Linked DNA regions of Homo sapiens: all the other regions are reported to be linked to region 2. The links are microRNA targets in miRTarBase. Many come from high-throughput screens and were not tested one by one. Region 2 holds a microRNA gene; each other region holds the end of a gene's coding sequence.
Evidence for each region. The annotated mature microRNA hsa-miR-124-3p reads UAAGGCACGCGGUGAAUGCCAA and lies in region 2 at 2,775-2,796, shown strand. An mRNA with a match to its seed (bases 2 to 7 or 8) in the 3' UTR can be bound and repressed. Matches are read on the target gene's strand: a 7mer-m8 pairs with bases 2 to 8, a 7mer-A1 pairs with bases 2 to 7 and ends in A, and an 8mer does both.

Region 1: the mRNA of CALU is a reported target of hsa-miR-124-3p. Seed matches in the 3' UTR shown: 7mer-m8 at 5,742-5,748.
Region 3: miRTarBase lists TMEM156 as a target of hsa-miR-124-3p. The part of its 3' UTR that is shown has no 7-base or 8-base seed match.

What each region holds. Positions count from the first base shown.
Region 1 is chr7:128,768,723-128,775,891 of GRCh38, reverse strand. CALU (calumenin) reads right to left here. Exons shown (of 7, transcript NM_001219.5): 7 at 2,492-6,829. The coding sequence ends at 6,725. It overlaps OPN1SW (opsin 1, short wave sensitive), which reads left to right and starts at 98. Exons shown (of 5, transcript NM_001385125.1): 1 at 98-453; 2 at 738-906; 3 at 1,229-1,394; 4 at 2,004-2,243; 5 at 3,233-3,407. The coding sequence starts at 111. The coding sequence ends at 3,352. RefSeq lists cis regulatory regions at 1-101, 1-101, 1-101, 1-101, 1-104 and 1 more.
Region 2 is chr8:64,376,436-64,383,632 of GRCh38, forward strand. It overlaps MIR124-2 (microRNA 124-2), which reads left to right and starts at 2,714; the gene lies at 2,714-2,822. It overlaps MIR124-2HG (MIR124-2 host gene), which reads left to right. Exons shown (of 3, transcript NR_109792.1): 2 at 1,624-2,054; 3 at 5,168-7,197. RefSeq lists an enhancer at 131-708.
Region 3 is chr4:38,965,191-38,972,387 of GRCh38, forward strand. It overlaps TMEM156 (transmembrane protein 156), which reads right to left. Exons shown (of 7, transcript NM_024943.3): 6 at 5,842-5,947; 7 at 1,554-2,451. The coding sequence ends at 5,880. Among named protein-coding and RNA genes, the nearest start is that of TMEM156, 64 kb to the right of the region's middle.

The DNA of each region.
Region 1 (7,169 bases), not on the chromosome of region 2:
TAGTATTGATCATTCACAGAGCCCAAGTGTTTTTAGAGGAGGGGTTTTGTGGGGTGGGAGGATCACCTATAAGAGGACTCAGAGGGGGGTGTGGGGCATCCATGAGAAAAATGTCGGAGGAAGAGTTTTATCTGTTCAAAAATATCTCTTCAGTGGGGCCGTGGGATGGGCCTCAGTACCACATTGCCCCTGTCTGGGCCTTCTACCTCCAGGCAGCTTTCATGGGCACTGTCTTCCTTATAGGGTTCCCACTCAATGCCATGGTGCTGGTGGCCACACTGCGCTACAAAAAGTTGCGGCAGCCCCTCAACTACATTCTGGTCAACGTGTCCTTCGGAGGCTTCCTCCTCTGCATCTTCTCTGTCTTCCCTGTCTTCGTCGCCAGCTGTAACGGATACTTCGTCTTCGGTCGCCATGTTTGTGCTTTGGAGGGCTTCCTGGGCACTGTAGCAGGTACTGCAGGGGAAAAAGGGGTTAGGGGAAGGCAAAGGTTGCTACTCCACTGGAGGGGGTTCCTAAAGAGGAGTCTGGGGGAAATGAGTCTGGTGCTTTTTAAAATACTGGGGTACAAAGCAACCCAGACTAGAAGTTTGGCTAAAATAGGATGTTTGAGTCTTCACTCCAAATGTCAGTCCAGCCCTGTCTCTCTGTGCTTGCTCCACCCGATCTGTTTGCCACTCTGCCAGCCAGGCTGGGTGGGGCTCTGTCTAGCCCATTATCCTCACATTTCACCACAGGTCTGGTTACAGGATGGTCACTGGCCTTCCTGGCCTTTGAGCGCTACATTGTCATCTGTAAGCCCTTCGGCAACTTCCGCTTCAGCTCCAAGCATGCACTGACGGTGGTCCTGGCTACCTGGACCATTGGTATTGGCGTCTCCATCCCACCCTTCTTTGGCTGGAGCCGGTGAGAGTGCAGGGCAGTGGTGCTGAGTTAACTAGGAGCTCAGGTTGATGTGGGTGGAAAGAGAGCTTGGGTATAACTATTTAGTCTTTGACCTCTACTTTTAAAGAGTTGCAATATGAGGCGAAAGGGCAGTGGGAGACAAGTGCTAACGTTTACTCTGCAGTTGGAATTGCTGTAGCTTCTCCCAGTCAGGACAGAAAACCCCCCTGCTTGAAGCCTTAGGGCATTCCGTGGGTTCTAAGTGGAGAACACAATCCAGGCATCTCAGCTCCCACTGCACTCTTGTGGAGAGTCCAGTGAGCAAGTGTTTGGTCCTTTGCAGGTTCATCCCTGAGGGCCTGCAGTGTTCCTGTGGCCCTGACTGGTACACCGTGGGCACCAAATACCGCAGCGAGTCCTATACGTGGTTCCTCTTCATCTTCTGCTTCATTGTGCCTCTCTCCCTCATCTGCTTCTCCTACACTCAGCTGCTGAGGGCCCTGAAAGCTGTGAGTGGCATTTGATAGTCAGGGAAGAAGGGGTTCGGGGCTCCACATGAGAAGGAAGAGTGCTCTGAAACATAAGATGCCTGGAAATGTCCATAGCCAGAGAGGGTATCTAAAAGCAGCAAAGGAAGTAGGAGGAGGGAGAATGATGGAGATCCAAAGGAACTAGGCCAGGAGATGGGACAGAAAAGAGGCAATCAGAGTGGATGCCCCCTCCCCCATCCCACAGAAAAGCATCCAGAGACCGGGCGCAGTGGCTCACGCCTATAATCCCAGCACTTTGGGAGGCCGAAGCAGACGGATCACCTGAGGTCAATAGTTCCAGACCAGCCTGGCCTACATGGCAAAATGCTAAAATGCGAAAATTAGCTGGGCATGGTGGTGTGTGCTTGTAACCCCAGCTACTCAGGAGGCTGAGACAAAAGAATCACTTGAACCCGGGAGGTGGAGGTTCAGTGAGCCGAGACTGCACCACTGCAACTCCAGCCTGGGCAACAGAGCGAGACTCGGTCTCAAAAAGAAAATTAAAAATTAAAAATTAAAAAAAAAAAAAAAAAGCATCCAGAGGGCCAGGAAAAAGAGAGATGTGATGCTTTCCGTGCTCCACCCCAGGTTGCAGCTCAGCAGCAGGAGTCAGCTACGACCCAGAAGGCTGAACGGGAGGTGAGCCGCATGGTGGTTGTGATGGTAGGATCCTTCTGTGTCTGCTACGTGCCCTACGCGGCCTTCGCCATGTACATGGTCAACAACCGTAACCATGGGCTGGACTTACGGCTTGTCACCATTCCTTCATTCTTCTCCAAGAGTGCTTGCATCTACAATCCCATCATCTACTGCTTCATGAATAAGCAGGTAAAGCTCTTTATTCACATTCCTATGGTCCAGAAGACCCTGGTTCTTTTCTCACCATTGACTTTTAACTCAGAGCACCCTGGACTCTACCCAGGTTTCTAGTAGACGAGGGAAGCCACAAAACCCCCGAGTAGGTTGGGAAGCCTTTGGTAAGCACAGGGAGGAAGGCACGGTTATCAAGACGAGAAAATAGAACCCCGGAGGAAAGAACTTGAGTCAGGAAAATGAAGTTGCTCCAAAGAACAGGATGAATGAAAGCATTTTATTGAAAAACTCGTGCAGCAAACCACCATGGCACACGTTTACCTATGTAACAAACCTGCACATCCTGCACATGTATCCTGGAACTTAAATAAAATTAAAAAAATAAAAATAAAAACTCAGATTCCTCTCAATTTTCAGTCCTTGCATTTAATAATTTCTTAATCATTTCCCTTCCAACTTTTAGCCTGCACGAGCATGTGTGAAGCACAGAAATCATACCACATGCAAAAATCTCTAAAATATCTTATCATCTGAAGGTACTGGGGGATTTCCTATCCCATCTGAAATCCGAGCTAATAAACACCAAACCCTAAGTGGCAAAAACCCTACTTTCAGATGGTATTGTTTCCTCAATCCCAGAGGTAGACTCAAAACTAATTTGAAACCTCCCTGGATAGAAGAGAATTGGCAGTCCTTTCCAGCTGGGAGCACCTGCTAGTAATGGAGGGGCCTCTGCTGACAGTGCTTTTATGAAGCAGGATGGTTTGTGAATTTACCAACAGTGAGGTCTCAGACTTGACCAGTTTAGGATTACCGTAGACCCAGGAGTAGTTCTAGACTGGAATCTAGATAGTTTTCAGGATGGGGAAGATAGATTCAAAACCACCTAAGGGCATTCTGGGTACAAAGCATTGTGCAAGGCTTTGGTGATACAGAGAATAAGGTCTTTTTTCCCATACTTCCTCATCTGCCAAGGTTATCTCCAATTGTACCTTTCTCTCCAGTTCCAAGCTTGCATCATGAAGATGGTGTGTGGGAAGGCCATGACAGATGAATCCGACACATGCAGCTCCCAGAAAACAGAAGTTTCTACTGTCTCGTCTACCCAAGTTGGCCCCAACTGAGGACCCAATATTGGCCTGTTTGCAACAGCTAGAATTAAATTTTACTTTTAAGTAAGTTTCTATTGTCTCCGTCAGAAACCAAACTACTAAAAACACAAAAAAGATGGTAAAAGGAGTGATGGCAGTTTGGGGAGTCAATTTTTCATTTTCTTACTATTGCCTTCTTGCCTACAAAGCTACTGTTTCCACTGGTCTATTTCAGACCACCCAAAGGCCATTTCAACAATCATCAGTTTCTACTCCTAAGTGGCACCATTCACAGCACTTGGAGAACTGATTTCTACATACAAGGCAACCAAAAAGGAATATGCTTTAAGTTTTCAGTGTATGGATACTTTCCTTTTTAGTAACTTTTTTTTTTTTTCCTGCTGGGGATCCATTCTGAGATGATATATGCTGAATTAGAACAAACTTAAGAAAACACTTTAGAAATGGGAGAGACATAAAGAAAAAACAAAACAAAACAAAAAAAAAAACAAAAAAAACTCAGTGGCCCCAAATATGAGTTTGAAAGAACTTTTGGATAACTGCTACAGCTTTGGCAGGAACAGCCATGTCCACAAGCCCCTGAGCAAGCACAAATTATTCCAGGTGCTTCCTCCCCGTTGCATTTGGCTAAACCTTTATATTTGTCTTAAACTGTGTGTTTACTAAAGTTAATAGTTTAATTCTCTCGAGGTTCTCAAAATGAATTTGCATGTTTTAATAACATTTGTAAACAATACCAAAATGTTAAACAAAATTGTTTTACCTTATGCTCTATAGATAAACGTGTGTGTACATTCAGAATCGCTTGTGTTTGGTATCAGATAATTATATAACGAGCAGCAGGTCTCTCCAGTTATACGGCCTAATGGAAGTAAAAAAGGGTTATGGCTGTGGTGAGAAGGATGCTAGAAAATACCAGAAAACAGGGAGAAAAGAATAATCATTTAGGAGAAGGCAGTGCTGTCTCTGAGTTTGGGAGAACTTCGAGGAGAGTTCCCATTCTGACATTTTAGAGCATCCATAATTCTAAGCTAGAGTTCTATTTCTTGGAAAATGAAGGTCATACATACCCCATAATGAATGTAAACAGTTTTATTTAGAAACAGATAGGTACCTGTTCGCATTGCAGAATATAAAACTTGGTTTACACTCTATAAAAAATAACCAATATCCAAATTCAAGAGAGCTAGCATTCACAGAACACACAATATGGGTGTGTAGCTACTGTTCACCAGCCTCAGGCTTGATTTAAACAAACAAACAAAAAAAAAATTTCAAAGGGATCATTCAAGATGACCGTATAATGCTTGCTGCTGTCTTTGCAGATTAAGGTTTGCTTTTCAAGTGCATGATTTTAACATAAGGCCTGGGCTCTCTGCACCTAGTGAGGTGTGAGGCTCTCTTGCCACACAGTTCACACTCTCACTTAACTAAGCCAGAGTTGGTGGCATTATTAAATTATCACTGGTCTTCTTAATAGTAAAAATGGGGAACCCAGAGGGCAGGAAATTTCCATTACCCTATATTGGGGCTAAACTTAAAAGAGTATATCCACTATCAAGAGCTTAGTACAAAGGCTGGGGTGAAGTTACATTATACCTGGCTTTTTACCATACCAGGGAGCCCACCTCAACATGACTGTGGAAGACCAAAGGATATACCTAGGTTCAGATTATAATAAATCACCCAGCACCACCTGAATGTATTATCCACAAAGATATAGCAATAATAAAGGTTATATATACATATATTTATCTTGGTAACCTGAGGGCTAAAAACGTGGAATACGATAATTCTTCTCAAGAGGTCCATCTGTAAGAAAGGGACCCAAAAGGACAGTGTTTGTGTTGCATAAAATATGGGTAAAGTGGAGTTGGGAACAAAGGGTGGTTTCTTTAGCTCTTTCCACATCTCTCTTTGATAAGGACTGAAACCCTGTTGATTCATGATAAACGTTTCCTTTTTTTTTTTTTTTGGCAGCGGGGAGAGGGAAAGAGGAGGAAATGGGGTGTGATGGGTCAAAGGCAGGAAAGGTAAGCCATGGTCCTCAAACCAAAGAGCCCTCTCTGTAGGTCCTCTGATCTTTGAGTGTGAGCTCAAGCTCTCCAGTGGACACAGAAAAAGGCCTGGTAGTAAGTGGTTTGCATTGTGAGGTATGAGGATCCCTGGTAAATTCAGCAGCATGTGGTTTTTGGAAATCAGCCCACAAGATAAGAACACTGCAACCAAACTCATAACTAATACTGCTAATTTAACTATTGTCCAAAAGAGAAAGGGAAGAAGAAAAAAATCCCCACTCTACTGGGAGGTTCTAGGCTTTCCTATAAGTTATCCAAATAGTCTTTTTTTAATCTCAGGGTTTCTTAAGAGAATTCCCATTCAGTGACCATTTCTTTCGTTAAAGGCACTTTCAATGACATGATTGGAAAGGAGTGAATTTTAATTGTAGTGAAACCAAGATTAATTCCTTGGCACACCTGGGAAGAAGAGGAACCGGATGGGGGCATTTACAGTGATTTCAAAAGGCAAATAATTAAGTCTTGAGCATTTCAACAGATGCACACCCAGAAAAAAAATGTATGCCCCGAAAACACTTGTATTTTTCCTTTAGTTTTCCAGCTGTTTCTATCTATAGCTCTGCAAAGAGATCACATTCACTACTTGATTGATTTTCAAGACACTGGCCCTAACTCTTCCCACCACAGCTGTGCTTGACAAAATTAGCCAACAGTCAGTCCTACAGGGGGAAAAAGAAGAAAATCAATTTGGGCCAAGCTTTCCTAGAGCAAAGGGATCTTTCCTTGCCCAGGTAATGGCAGGTTCAGTTGCTGGACCTATAGCAACTGAATGTAATATGTGGCCCCTACTACCTATGAAATGTTGGACTTTTTGACAGGCAAGACTAAGTGTTCTCTCTCTAAATATAAATTGTGGAGCATATATTTTTTTTCTTTCCTCTCTCCTGAACATTTCTTATTGATCTCAGGCTTACAAAATTAGTTAAGTGAGAATTATTAAAATCATAAAAGGGGTTGAGAAAGAGTAAAGAGCTAATGTTTGTCTACATGTGTGAGTTGAGGATCTTGATCCTTCATATCATACTCCCAACCAGAGAAAAATACAAAAATAAACACGCCATGTTAATACATAATACAAAGTGTAAATCTACAAACACAAGTGTACTAATTAGAGTTGTTCCTCAGAAGCACGGCTTCCCTCCAGTCCCTCAGAGAGGAGGAGGAATGGGGACGGGATGGTTTTCATTACGCCTTTTCATGTCTTAAAAAGTTTGTAGTAACAGTCTCAGTAGCGCAAACAATTTCATGTGAAACCAGAAGCTGTAAAAATAAATTACTTTTGAGGAAATGAGGGTTCCTCCGTAGCTCAGAACTCATCATGCCGTACTAAGGCCTCCCCAAAATCTGTGGCCTGGCTGCCAACAAATAAGTCATACTTGTCAACGATCTCCTCCTTGGTAAGCTTGCCATCCTGAAAGTAGAGATAGCAATGAATTGAAGAAGAACATATTTCCCATTAAAAATTCAGAAACACTGTTATAGAAGAATTGGGGTTAATCAGAAGTTAAGATTCTCATTTCTACTAAATTAAGTGTGAACTACTCAGCCCTCATTCCCCCTACATACATACGAAGAGGGAAGAAAACAGCAATTACACATTCCTTGTTTTTTTTTTTTTTTTTTTTTGAGACGGAGTTTCGCTCTTGTTGCCCAGGCTGGAGTGCAATGGCGCGATCTCAGCTCACCGCAACCTCCGCCTCCCGTGTTAAAGTGATTTAAGTGATTTTTCTGCCTCAGCCTCCCGAGTAGCT
Region 2 (7,197 bases):
CAGGTTGCTGGAATTAGATGCTACATATATTTTGAACACACATACTTATTTTAATATTTTAGTTTTAGACAACGTATTCAAAGTACTTGAGAAGAATATGCAATGACATTTTTTCCGTGTCCTAATCAGGACCATGGTGAGGTCCCCGTGGTTCACCGAGTGGTGGTCCAGGGCTCTGGTTGGGACGCTGAGTTAGGTTGGCAAAGCGTCATTGTTTTGAAAGGCACATTCGTCCGGAATGGCATTCGTGATAAGATTAAACATAAACCTAAACCTTGGCCTCGGGGGAAGGCAGGCTGCGGGGTTGAGAAGAGGAGATGCAGATTAGCTCTGCTTTTGCTGCTTGCGCACATAATTAAGAGGCGGTCCCTCAGCTGGAGCGTGGGCTGTGTCCGGCCTAAGGTGCTTATTTTCCTGTTACTTGGCCAACCGAGTGTGAGTGAACAGGAGCCCGAGAGCTTAAATGTGGGATCTAGATAAGGTGTCGACTGGGTTGTGGGCGTTTGTCTCCATGTTAGGGAGAGGCAACTGAGAACGGTGACTTTGGCTTGTTTTGAGAGAGCCTGGGTTTTGACAGCAGGACGGCGAAGGGAGCGCTTGGAGAGGCTGGAAGCTCGACGTCTTAGGGAGCTGCCTGCGGGCACTGGGTTGACGCCAAGAGGTTGTCGGCAAGGGCAGGGCTCTTGCCCTCTGCTGTACCTAGGCTCTGCAACTGGGGGCTGCGAGCCTTCTGCGGCTCTTTGGTTTCAAGGACACAGCGAGCTGCTCAGGACTTTGGGAGCCAACATCTGTCTGACTGGTGACGTCAGCAGCCCGTGTAATCCTCTTGTGCTGAAGGCAGATGCCTTATTTGTTTGGCTGGAGCGAGCCATTAATCCCTAATTCTGGATCAGCAAGCGAGGGGGAAAGACCGGACCGCTCCGACCCACCCCCTCCCTACCCCCACCTCCCACCTTAAAGCACCTTATACCACGGAAGGCTCTCAGCCTCTTCTTTCCTCTGCGAACGCGCTGAGCAGCGATTGAAAACGTTTTGGTCCTCTGCAGGTTTGAACAGGGCTAGCAGGTCTCTCTCCGGATTTCTAGGGCTATGGGTATATGTAATTCTTTCTCTCATCGATCGTTTCGATTCTCTTGCCGGTCTTGCAGTTTGCAGGGTCCTAAACGAAGAGGGGTGGAGATTCGAGAGTGCGGGTCTGGCGTGTGGTCCAAGGGAGGGGGTGAGGCTGGGAAAGGGGGTGCAGAATGCGGGAACGGCTGGGACTGCACAGAAGGACCATCTGCGGACTCGTTTTCACTGCTCCAGCTCCCGAAATCGTTTCTCTGGACGCGGCAGTATCCGCAGCGCATGCACCCTCCTCTGGACTTCCGCAGCCCAGACCTGCGCTTACAGTCATCGCGCCACCCCCTCCCCCCGGGCTGCGGGCCCCGCGCTCCGTGGGCTCAGGGTCCCCTCCGCGTCCCCCTGAAGCCTGGGGACGGAGGTCGCGACCGGCCGACTGGGGTCCTGTCCTCTTGTCACCTTGTATCCCTCGCATGCTCCCTCCCGCCTCGTGTCCCTCTCCCCACCCTCCCCCTCCTCTCTCCCGCCTCCCTAACACTGCGCTTTGATTCTGTTTTTCAGGGGCGCATTCTGGGGTCTCTGCGCAAGACCAGCTCTCAGCTCTCTCTCCTTTCCTCGGACTCTGGAGCGGGAGCGGGCCTTTCCCTCGGGTCGACCACGCCGTAGGGGACGCCGTGAAAAGAGCCGTCGCGCCCGCTGCCTCCTGCCCGCTGCGCAGAGGGCTCCGCCCGTAGAGGTCAACTTCCCTCACCCTTTTCTCTCTCCTGCTTGCCCTCCCTCCGCCCGGCCCAGGCGCTTCCAGCCCCAGACTGTGGCCACTGGCTGAGGAGTGCGAGTCGGCTGCGCTGCCCTGAGCCTAATCCCTCTTCCGGGCCCAGACCCGAGGTCCGCGCTCCTGGGCAGTGGGGAAGCTTTAGTGAGCAGGCTTTTCTCTCCGCAGCAAACTTGTAGCCAGACCAGATGGGCCGCCCAGCTCTCTCGGGACTAGGCAGGTGCGGATGAGTTAATTTTTCCGCATTACAAAGAAAGATGACCCAGCCCGCCCTTGGACTCTCTTTTCCCAAAATCTCCCAACCAAACCCGCGGTAACGTTATCAAAGGACACAGAGCCCAGGCATATCTGTGTGTTTATCTTACAGGCACACACGCATGGTTTTCTCTTTTATATGCTAGATTTCATCCCTGACAGCAGAAAATGATTGGCAATGGTTATGACGGAGAACATGCAATAGCGTGGTCCTTAAAAACCTGCCATTCCTTACAAGTGCCTTAGAAAGGATTCAGGGCGAACCAACTGGGTTAATTGCATTCAGTAAAATAACACGATTACAAAATTAGATCTGTACCAGAGGGGTAATTAACTTGGATCCACGCCGTCATTTGAAAACTAGATTTATAGGCTTATGTATGTTTTTAGGCGTGTGCTGTAAATGGCATGGAGATATATGCATATGTATACGCAGGCACACGCACCGTCTACACTTCCACGGAACAGACTAATTAACAGCGGCTCTGGCAGATGTGTCAGAGATGAGCAGAGACAGGAGCTGGGCTTATGAGTTATGACTCTAGGGGTAGAGACTCAGAGCGGAGAGAGGGGGATGGGCAGGGAGAGAAGAGTGGTAATCGCAGTGGGTCTTATACTTTCCGGATCAAGATTAGAGGCTCTGCTCTCCGTGTTCACAGCGGACCTTGATTTAATGTCATACAATTAAGGCACGCGGTGAATGCCAAGAGCGGAGCCTACGGCTGCACTTGAAGGACACCAAAGCATCTCAGGGTCAGAAAGGGGAAAAAGCAATTGCAGGGAATTTAGGGGGTAGTAAAAGGAACCCATCTCTTGCCGCATAAATGCCCCCCACCCCCACCCAGGACTGATTCTGGAAGCAACCTAGTGTTCGAAAGGGAAAGGCTCCTACTTTTCCATTACAGCCGCGGAAATCCGCAGGCAAATCTCCGAGGAGAATTTTAGGGAAGCTTCATTGACAGCTGTCTGGAGAGCAGTAGTTCCCGCCTGTGCAAATATTCCAGAGAGTTAAATCATTTAGAAAGCACTAGTTCTTTCAAGAACAGGTAGTGTGATTGTCTGCAGTCCTGGGCCAAGCTGGGAAAACAAAACAGCAGAGAGAGGTGTAACATTAAATAGCGTCCTGACCACACTGCGCAAGAAACAGCAAATGAAACGTCCAAACTTTGGAAAGATCTGAAGAACACTTGCCGCCCGCATTTCCCCTTGACTTCTCCCTTTTTCTTCCCAATCTCGAGGCGTTCATGCCTGGCTTTAAGACGCCAAGATAACTCTCTTGTTTTGGCATTGTCGCAATGTCCAAATCGGTCAAAGGAGTGGGATAAGGTGAAAGGACCAGGTCAGAAACTTTAGAAGGACTCGGTAAATTAATTTGTTTGGAAGCCAGTGAGGTGGACTATGTTGAGGTAGCAGTTCCGCACCACGACTTTGGAGCCAAAGAAAAACCCAGGCCGAAAAAGCGAGCCTTGATGTCTTTGTTCTGCCTTGGCCTGCAGGGGTTGGGAACAAAGGAGAGGAGCTAAGAGGATGCACCAAAGTAGCCGCGCCCTCCCTGCCTGGCGCTGTCCGCGGTGCTGACCGTGGCCCTTTTCTCTCTCCGTAATCAAACTGGAAAAGCAATAGGACCGTCCCGTCCCTACTCAAAAGAAGAGTAGGATATTAGGTAATTTGAAAAATAACATTTAAAAAGAGAAAAAGGTCACATACAGCAAAACAATATTTTACTGAAATCGTTCCCTCAAGCTGGTTGCTACCCTTGCCTGACACTTTTTGGTCTTCACGTAGGAATGCACACATACATACATTGTAAGTGTATGGGGAAACCATTTCCACTTTATTTAGGCTGAAACCTAAATCGCAGGATTGCAAGAAGGAAATTGAGGAGAATGAAGGCTTTATTATTATCCTTTTCTTTCTTAAATCATCTTCCTTAAAACAGAAACATAAGGTCCTCAGCCGCGGATTTTAGTGCTTACTTGGTCACCAAAGGGACGTGCAATGGACTCAAGTGTGGGCCTCGAGGCTTAACTAGGAAGGGGTGGGTCGGGGACCCACCAGGTGAAACAGGGCAGGAGCCCATGCAGCTTGCCACCTTCGGCCAGGCCTTGCAGCCCGGCAGCCTTAGTAGACGGGTACAGAGGGCTGAGCTCTGCAGACCGCTCTGCTGCGCAGGAGCCTGCTCGGCGCATCCCAGCCGGCGGGAGGCACTGGAGGGCCAGGAGGCCTGAAACCCGCACTGCGGAAAAACCGACCTCAGCCACATCCTCATAGCTCACGCGACGGAAAGAGGCAGGGCGGTTTACTAAATCTTATGCAGTGAAAATTCGCCTTAGAAATCGAAGGTTGGATGAGTCAGTATTGATATATTCAAAAATCTAAATTTCTTAGCATATTTCATCGTTCTTAGATGTTGAAAGTATTAAATGTAAACAATACAAATTTAAATTCCCTAAGTAATGAATCAAAATGGCAAGGGAGAGAGAGAGAGAGAGAGACGGAAAATCAACCAATTCGTAGCCACCCTGGCTGGCTATTTCTCAAAAGAAATTTCTATGCATTTGCTTGAGTTTGTCTATAAATTCACAAACATAAAGGGTGTTAAAATTAGTAACAGACAAAATAATTCAGGTTGGACAATAGAGACAGCAACACCGATTTTGATCCAGGTATAACAATGGGCCATGCATTGACAATGACCTAAAAGACATGTGTTCATTAAGTTATTTTTTTTACACGGGATGTAGATGTATCATAAAATTCATGAAATAAAGCGGCCAGGTGCAATATCCTCAGAGAGCTGCCTTCTCACCCCCTGCCTCAGGGCGGATTTTATCTGTCCTCGAATTTTAGAACTCTGCAAGTCGGGTCTTTCACATTCATCGATTACTTTGGTTTATATTTAATTTTATCCAATTTCGGAGTGGGTGGGTAAAGCACACTGGAAAATAGGGGCTGCTCGAATTACAAAATTTAAGGATTGGGAATATTCCTCTTGTGCCAATTAAAAGCAGTCGTTGGAAGCAGAAATGAATTTAAAGCATTACACGTTATCATGGCGGCCTTGCTTTTTCCTTCCAGTATTCATCCAATTGCGCTGATCTCCTGCATCCACATCTTGCGTAATCCACAAAGCAGCTATGGTCCAGGGCTGCAAAATCGTCCTGCCTGATTCCTTTAGAATTCATACTACCTCAGAGGAGCAAACCTAATCCCCTCAGCCTAATCCTACCTGTTTAGGATCATCTAAACTTGTCCTTCAGAAAGCTTGATCAGTTTAAAATTGCTTTCTAAATAGAAATGAAATACGTGATATGAGAGAGGTTAAAATACTGCTTAAAAAGGGAAACACTCAATTTAGTAATTCGGTTGCCTAGATGAAATCGAGTGGCTATTGATCCGTGATGTTTCTAGATTTTTAAGACTATGTACTTCCTATTTCTTTGGAAAATAATCATCCAGTTTGATGCCCATTACAAATTTTCCTGCTATGAAAGAAATTCTATGCGCGGCAGTTTTGCAATAAAACAACCCGGGCTTCGCAATGGGAGAACTTCGGTGCGGCGTGCCGTGAGAGTCCTTTGACAATCTCAGCTTTCATCTAGGTCTGAAATTAAAGCTTCTCGGAATAATTTAGGAACAGCTTGACCCGTTGAGATACTCAAGGACAACCCTCCAGGGAAATAGTATGTTTCCTTCCTGGGAACAAGATGCTAGCGCGGTGCACCGGGAGGTATCTGGTGTCAACAATGCCAGAGCGCCCTCTGCTGCCTCAAAGAGGCAGGACACCAGTTACAAAAGCCAGATGGCACAGTGGCAATAAGCGGAGGAAACATTAAGCTCTTAGAAACGTTTAATCTGTGAAATTTAAAAGCTCTCATCATATTCTACTTTTGAAAGGGCCACCTGATTTTGATTTTGAGCACTCCTTGGATGTTATCTTCTATTCTGGAGGATAATGAAAAGTCCGTGTTTTGAAGTTTTCAGATTATTTCTGTAGTTATATTTCTCCACTCTTTCTCGAATTTTATATGGAAATACGAAATTGCAAATCTAAGTGAAAAACCTTTGTGTAAAACAGGTGAGTGGAGAAGACGTCCTGGTTTCTCCAAATAACTAAGATCTAATAAAGAAACAAATCTTAATTAAAATAAAGATACCGAGCACATGTTGTTGTGTTAGTTTAAAACGATAATAAAAAGAAAGAAATTAAGTCTCGATGTAAATCATTGTTTTGTTGTTTTGTTTCAGTGATTAACCCAAATTTTGACCAGACTTGAAGTTTTGAAATAAGAAAGTGAATTATTTTAAAGAAGAAGAAAAATTTGCTTCTTATTAATATGTACAATATTTTTGCCCTTAAAACCTTTGCAATACATTTATACACACACACTCAGCTTGCAAAGCCTTCTTTAGAAAATAACCCACTCTGAGTAGAAGTAATGAGATATGGTAGCAGCATGGGCAAAGCCATAAGAAACGTTATTTGCATTAAAAATGAGTTTTTCAGTATGGAAAATCAATTACCAAATGAAATAGAGATTTTTTTTAAAGGTTCAAACCTTTTCAAATTTTTATGTTATAGGGTTTATATTGATTAAAATAAATGTACGTTTGTAGTTATTCAACATTATGAATTTCAAGATGGCCACCTATTTTGAAACGCACACCTTTGCCATGAAGTCTGTTGTTGCATATATTAGTGCTGATGTAATAAAATGCTTCTATTAACTATGTGGTTGTTAATAAATCTTGTAAAAATAAAGTTCTGTTTATTTTATGGTGTCAGAACAAAATAGCTGTTTAAAATCACTTATTTTAGTCTTAGCTTTTAAATCAAAATGCCTATAAGAATATTAAGTTCTAAGATTGTTGAGAATACTAAGATAAAATTAAAAATTGTATGATTTTACAATTTGCTATAATTTAAAAATCTTGTATTGATTAAATGTTAAATCAGGTTAAATATTTGACCAATTGTGTCAAGTTCCGTATAAATATGGGTACATTTGTCTTCTGAAAGCTATTTCTCCAAAGAATGCACTTACGAATGTATGGCATAATAAGTGAAAAAATGGTAGAACTTTTATGTTTTTATTTTAAGTATCCTT
Region 3 (7,197 bases), not on the chromosome of region 2:
AAAGTAACAGGTATGAAAAGGGCTATGGGGGCTGAGAACGTGTTTATTTGAGAGGTTTGGTGATTCTGAGAATCAGGAAAAGCCATCTTCAAAACCCTGCTCAAAAGCCTGCCCTAATTCCTCCCAACTGGAAGTGATCCTATTGGCTTGTAAATTCTCAGCAGGAAGCATGCATCCTGCAATTGACACTTAGCTTACCGTATTGTGTCCAGTATTTTCACCAGTGGTGTACACATCCTGTCTCCTCTGCCAGAGTGTAAATTCTCTGTAGGCAGAGTAGGCCATCTACATCTTTGCGTGCGTCACAGTATCTGTTAAAAGTCGATTATTTTAATGAATCGGCGAAATTAGCTTCCTGAAAGCTGCCACAATTTAACTGGACTCGAAGCTTTATGTTTGCTTTTTGCAAGCCAAGTTCTCATTGATTTCTAAGTCATTGGTCAGAACATAAGAGGTGGTGTGTAGGGAAACAATAATTTGGCTTCTGAGAAATTGCATAATATCCATACCTCACAGGGTGTAATGCCCCTTCACTACCGCTGAAAAATCCCAGACCTGAGTTTGACTCACCTATTATTTAGGGATACACAGACCAGAAAAAGTGAGACTACTGTAATTCCGTTTGCGAAATCTTCAATCTCTAAATTTTACAATTAGAATCTCAATTTGTGATCTAGAGAAAAAATAATCGAATACCAGAAAAAAAAACCTCTGTGTGCTGGAATATTCATGCCTGTTAGATTGCTTATGTAGGAAGGGAAAAATATCTTTTCCTCCTACCCTTTTAAATTCAGAGCTGAATCCTTTATAATAAAAGATTAACCAGAGAAAAACATAGTGGTTTATTTAAACAAGTTCTACGTAACACAAGGGCCATCCTCAGGAAGTGAAGATCAGAGGAAACAGTTACACTTGAGTGTTTTTAGTAGTAGGTTTGATGAAGAATGGAGAGACACTTGCAGAAATATGATCAGGCAAAAAGAGTACTAGATCTAATAGGAATAAATGGAGGGAAACTTAGCAGAGCCCGTTTGTTCAGATTCTCCTCTGGGTCCCTGTGTCTTGGGAGATAGGGAACTGCCTTTCCTCTGTGGATACAGGAAGAGCACCTCTCACATGAGGGTCCTATGATGTGTTTTAGAGGAAGGTCAGCAAAGGTTTTATTACCTGCTTCCGGGGAGAAAGGTGGCAAAGGAAGGTCAGAGTAATATTTCCACTTAAAATTTGCCATTTTCTCAAATCCTTCAGCTTAAAAAATTCAGTTTGCCAAGGTGCCATATTTTGGGGCAGCGTGTCCTCAACCCCATCACTGATTATTAAATCTGACCCTGCAGTTAATCCTGTAAATCAACTCAGATAAGCAACTGTAGCCATATAATGATGGCCAGGAGATTAAGTTCCACCTTAACTCTGGAAAAGCATGTTTATATTTTAATGTCAAGAGCTGCCCTCTTGTCTATATGTGCTTTTTTATTGTTATTAGTAACTATAATTATGCTTGACATTAACAATGGCTATAACAAATATGAAAGCCAAAAGAATCAAAGGAAACGTTTTGCTATTAAAGTACTTAAGTATTTTATTTAAATTCGTTTTATTGGTATCTTTGATTTTTTTTTTTTTTTTTTTTTGAGACAGAGTCTTGCTCTGCACCAGGCTGTAATGCAGTGGCGTGATCTTGGTTCACTGCAAACTCTGCCTGCCAGGTTCAAGTGATTCTCCTGCCTCAGCCTCCTGAGGAGCTGGGACTACAGGCGCGCACCACCACACCCAGCTAATTTTTGTGTTTTTAGTAGAGACAGGGTTTCACCATGTTGGCCAGGATGGTCTCGATCCCTTGACCTCATGATCCTCCCACCTCAGAATCCCAAAGTGCTGGGATTACAGGCATGAGCCACTGCGCCTGGCCTCTTTGAATTTTTTTAAAAACATCCTGGTGCTAAAAGGCAGCAAGATTCATAAATGCAAACAAACATATAAATAAACAACCAGGCCCTCTTCCCTTTTAAATAATCTGTGAAATAAAAATAATCTATCTGCATAGGAAACAATTATCAAATCAGCATCTACAATGTGGCCCAATAAAAGAAAGGGTTTTCATATTTGATCCTGTTTTTGGTTCCTCAAAATTAAAAACTTGGCTCCACTCTGTGCTGTATAATGATAGATTTTTTTTAAGAAGAGAGAGAGTGGGAATTCTCTTGCTGTTTCCATGGGTTTCATCATCTTTTTTTCCATGACTCATAATGGCTTCTTGCAAACACTCTTGTTCCCTTGATCTCATGGAGCGAATGAATGCTCTTAAGCTAGTTTTCATCAACCAGTCAGCATTCCTCCTGCTTTCCAACTGTGCATCCTCAGCTGGACACAAACATTTTCCAGTCTACTCATTCACAAAATAAACTTCTGAGTATTCTTCAAAGGGCTCGGTCCAACTTGCCCGGGGATATTCTGAAGATTTAAATAAAAGCAAGAAAATATTATTCACACAAAAATTTTGTTAAGTGTTACTTGAATTAGAATGGGCAGAAAACAATTTTAAAACCGTTTGTTAAAACTATGGCTTATAAGACCACCAAAAAATGTTCTCAAGTCTCTGATTCAGGGCTCTTTCAGGGCAACCTGACCGCCTCAGCCTCCCAAAGTACTGGGATTACAGGCGTGAGCCACCACACCCTTCCATGACTTCTTTTCCTTTGGGTAGATACCCAGTAGTGGGATTGCTAAATGGAACAGTAGTTCTATTTTTAGTTTTTTGAGAAATCTCCATACTGTTTTCTGTAGTGGCTATACTAGTTTACATTCCTACCAGCAGTGTATAAGAGTTCCCAAAGTTGGGACAGTTATTCTCCCTTTTCAGGGTGACCCCAGGACTGATTCTGTGTTACGCCATGACACCCCCCATTATATCCCTAAGAAGACATTGTGCTCAGTGATAACAAACTTCTCAGCCTAGGACCAAGGAAACCTAGAGTCTCCACTAACCTCTGCTGCTACAGCATGTTTGGTTTATTTTCTATATCTATCAAATGAAAGTGTAAGTGTTCATGCCAGTTTCTTTCAATTATAACATTCCATGATTCTAACACAGAGACATAGAAATTGGGATTTATTCATTTACTCAACAAATCCTTATTGAACATCTAAACGCTAGGCATCATGTCCTCTGAAGGAGGAGTCTCTCTATCGTGCTCCCCAAGTCCCTCTCTTCACATGTGAACACCTTTATCATGTTACTTGAGTCTTTATTGGAATTAGGGCTTCTCTAATCTGACTCCTCCATTGACTACATTGTTGTTTTTGCCAATGAGTAGGATTCTCAACATACAGTAGGTGGTCAAAAATCATTTGGTGAATGAACAAAGAAAGAGGAACTCTTCAGATGCAAAGATAAGCATCCCAGAATGAACAACCAGAATGAGAGGTCTCGAGCATAATAATATCCAGTAATATTTCATTGACACAATCATATGACTACACTATATGCTACTTAGGAATTTCTGAGCCAACAGCAGACCCTGGTTGCACTGAGACCCAAAGTACTAAGACCTGCCTCTCTTTAACCTTGAACACAGACAGATTCTTGGCACTAAGTTTCAATTTGGCGTATTGAGCCATCGACGCTGGATCCCTTTGGCTGCCTCTCCCAATCTGCCCTCCACTCGTTTCCACCCTACTTGGTGCCCTGGGAGGCCAACTTACATAACTGCCTCCGCTGGGCTCCAGTGCCCTCTGGCTCTGGCTGGGTTTGGTCAATGGGGGAGTACTAGCACATTAGAGGAAGAGATGATGGCAAAGTTGGGGTTTGTTTGTACAAATTTATGGGGTACCTGTTAACTTTTGTTCTATGTATATAATGCATAGTGATTAGTGATCAAGTCAGAATACTTAGGATATCTGTCGCCCAAGTACAATACATTTTTGTGTAATTATAGTCACGCTACTGTGCTTTCACACATTCAATGTATTCCTTCTATCTGACTGTACATTTGTACCCTTTAACCCATTTCCCTTCACTTTAATCCATTTCCCTTCATCCTCTCCCCACAACTTACCTTTCCCAGTCTCTGTTCTCTATCTTTCCACTCTACTTCCATGTGATCAACTTTTTTAGCTCTCACCTACAAGTGGAGAACATGTGATATTTGCCTTTTTGTCCGTGGCTTACTTCACTTGAGATAATGACCTCCAGTCCCATCCAAGTTGCTGCATATGGCACGATTTCATTTTTTATGGCAAATATTTCATTGTATATATGCACCACATTTGTTTATCCATTCACCTGTTGATGGGCACTTAGGTCCATTCCATATCTTTGCTATTGTGAATAGTGCTACAATAAACATGTGAGTATAGGTATCCCTTTGCTATAGTGATTTATTTTCTTTTTCCGTTTCTTTCTTTTTTTGTTTTTTAAGACATGGTCTCATTTTGTCTCCCAAGCTAGAGCGCAGTGGCATGGCATGAACACAGCTCACTGCAGCCTCAACTTCCCAGGCTCAAGTGATCTTCCTGCCTCAGCCTCCCCAGTAGCTGGGATTTCAGACACGTGTCACCACGCCTGGCTAATTTTTGTATTTTTTGTAGAGACAGGGTTTCACCATGTTGCTCAGGCTGGTCTCGAACCCCTGAGCTCCAGCAACCTGCCCACCTCAGCCTCCCAAAGTGCTGGGATTACAGATGTGAGCCACCACACCCTGAGGTGATTTATTTTCCTTTGGGTAGATACCCAGTAGCGGGATTGCTGAATGGAAGAGTAGTTCTATTTTAAGTTTTTTGAGAAATATCCTACTGTTTTCTGTAGTGGCTATACTCTTCCTACCAACAGTGTAAAAGAGTTCCCAAAGTTAGGATAGTTATTCTCTCTTTTCAGGGTGACCCCAGGCTATAGTGTCCCTTGACCAAATGTCACAGCTCCTGTAGGACAGCCCTCCTCACACACTGTGTGTGTGTGTTTGTGTGTGTGTGTGTGTGTGTATACATGCATGCATGTCTGTCTCTGTCTCTGTCTCTCTGGGTTTCTTTCCCCTTTAGTCTTAAAGACAGTAGCAGGGCCCCACTCTTCCTAGTCTCAGGGTGCTGCATTCTCCCTTTTAGTTTTCCCACACCCTAGTTTAATATGCCCTTCATTAAACTAATCTCAAATTATTCAATTTGAGTGCAATATCAATTTCCTGATAGGACCTTGACTGAAAAACCACCCACGTATTCTGAAGAGTAAATGATATAACCAATTACCACAAAGCACAATAAGTGGGATGCTTATAAATGCTAGTTTCCCTCCCCTTCCCTGTTATAATTTTTATACCCCCTACAATGGCTATTCCTAGTGCCTTTAACATAATTGCTACTTAAGAAAGATTTGATGAATGAATAAAAAAAAATTTCAACACTTTTGACCATACTTTTAGACTTAAATTCATGGAAATCAATATGCATTAATTTAGATTATCAGATGTTACATTTAGAGAAGTTTTTATTTCAATAATTGTGGAGGAGGCAGTTTGCTTTACACATCTCATTCTCTATTTTCTCATAGTCTAACTAAGTTATGGCTCAACTCCGGAAAAACAGGGCCAAGGGATAAGCTATCATCTCAGGAGCAGTTTAAAAGACTAACAGATTAGTTTAACAGACTAAGAGATCCATCTACTGATCCTTCCTAGATCTTAGAGAAAATAGTCATTTTATTTCATGTCATCTAATTCATATGAACTGACTTTGCAAATTCATCATTTTCTACCTCCTACCAGATAGAAATGGAGTTTGGGATCAACTGTGCATCCTTGAATTTATCTGTGTTTATAATGAAGAAGTCGATAAAGCCGAATCATCACTCACCGTGTATATTGATCTCACTGATGCACTGTGGAAGTAACTTATAGTTCTGGAATTGGGGGAAGCACTTCCTGGACTTGATCCAAAGGCAGCCTCTGCGTGGTCTCTGCTATTTAAGAAGGAGAACTGTTTTAGTCTATATGTAGTAAATAGCAAAAAGAGACAGGCTTATTCTAATGTAGTAAGAGTAGCAAGAGAAGCATGCTCTACCTCTAGAAAGGATTTTGGGACTTTCTACCCTCACTAATTTTCCTGCCTACCTCTCTAACACCTTTCACCCATTTCTCTCAACTCCTCACCCCACGTCCTGGGCACAAATACCTGAAGCATAGTTAAGGAAGACAACGTAGAGAACAAATTTAAAGTCCAGTGTCAAGTAGCAAGCAAAGAATCTTAGTTTGGAAACTGACTGCAAACATTTTATTCTATCACATTTTGTTGAAATATGTCCCTAAGGAGAATATTAATGATGTCTTTGATCTCAGGGACAATTTTACCAAGAAGCAAAGTCACAAATTAGATGAATTCTAATCTGTCTTCCTGCTCATGACTGTATGACTTTTTAAAATTCTTCTAATATTATCCTCAGCTGACTTCGAGGTGGAAGATGAAACTTTATTTCCTACATCATGACATCTCGTTCATTCTCCTAAGATCCACGGTCTTGTTTTTCTAGCTTTTATATTGAGAATTGAGTTTTTGTTTCATAGACATCTCTACTTTTGATACAAAGCCCTGAACACAGGTGAAATTGAGGTGACCTATAATTTTTTTTTTTAAGACAGAGTTTCGCTCTTGTTGCCCAGCCTAGAGTGCAATGGTGCCATCTTGGCTCACCACAACCTCTGCCTCCCGGGTTCAAGTGATTCTCCTGCCTCAGCCTCCCGAGTAGCTGGGATTACAGGCATGCACCACCATGCCCGGCTAATTTTGTATTTTTACTAGAGACGGGGTTTCTCCATGTTGATCAGGCTGGTCTGGAACTCCCAACCTCAGGTGATCCACCCACCTCAGCCTCCCAAAGTGCTGGGATTACAGGTGTGAGTGACCGCGCCCAGCCGAGGTGACCTACAATTTAAAGAGAAGTTTGGGTGGTTGCTACTTAAGAAGAGAAATCAGAAAGGGAGATTTAGTGTATTCAAGAAAATTATGCTTCTTGTCCATGAAGATGATCAAACACTGGTACAGAAATACTGTAGAACCTTCTCTGGGAATTTTTTTTTTTTTTTTTTTTTTTTTTTTTGAGACAGAGTCTCACTCTGTCGCCCAGGCTAGAGTGCAATGGTGCGATCTCAGCTCACTGCAACCTCCGCCTCCTGGGTTCAAGCAATTCTGTCTCAGCCTCCTGAGTAGCTGGGA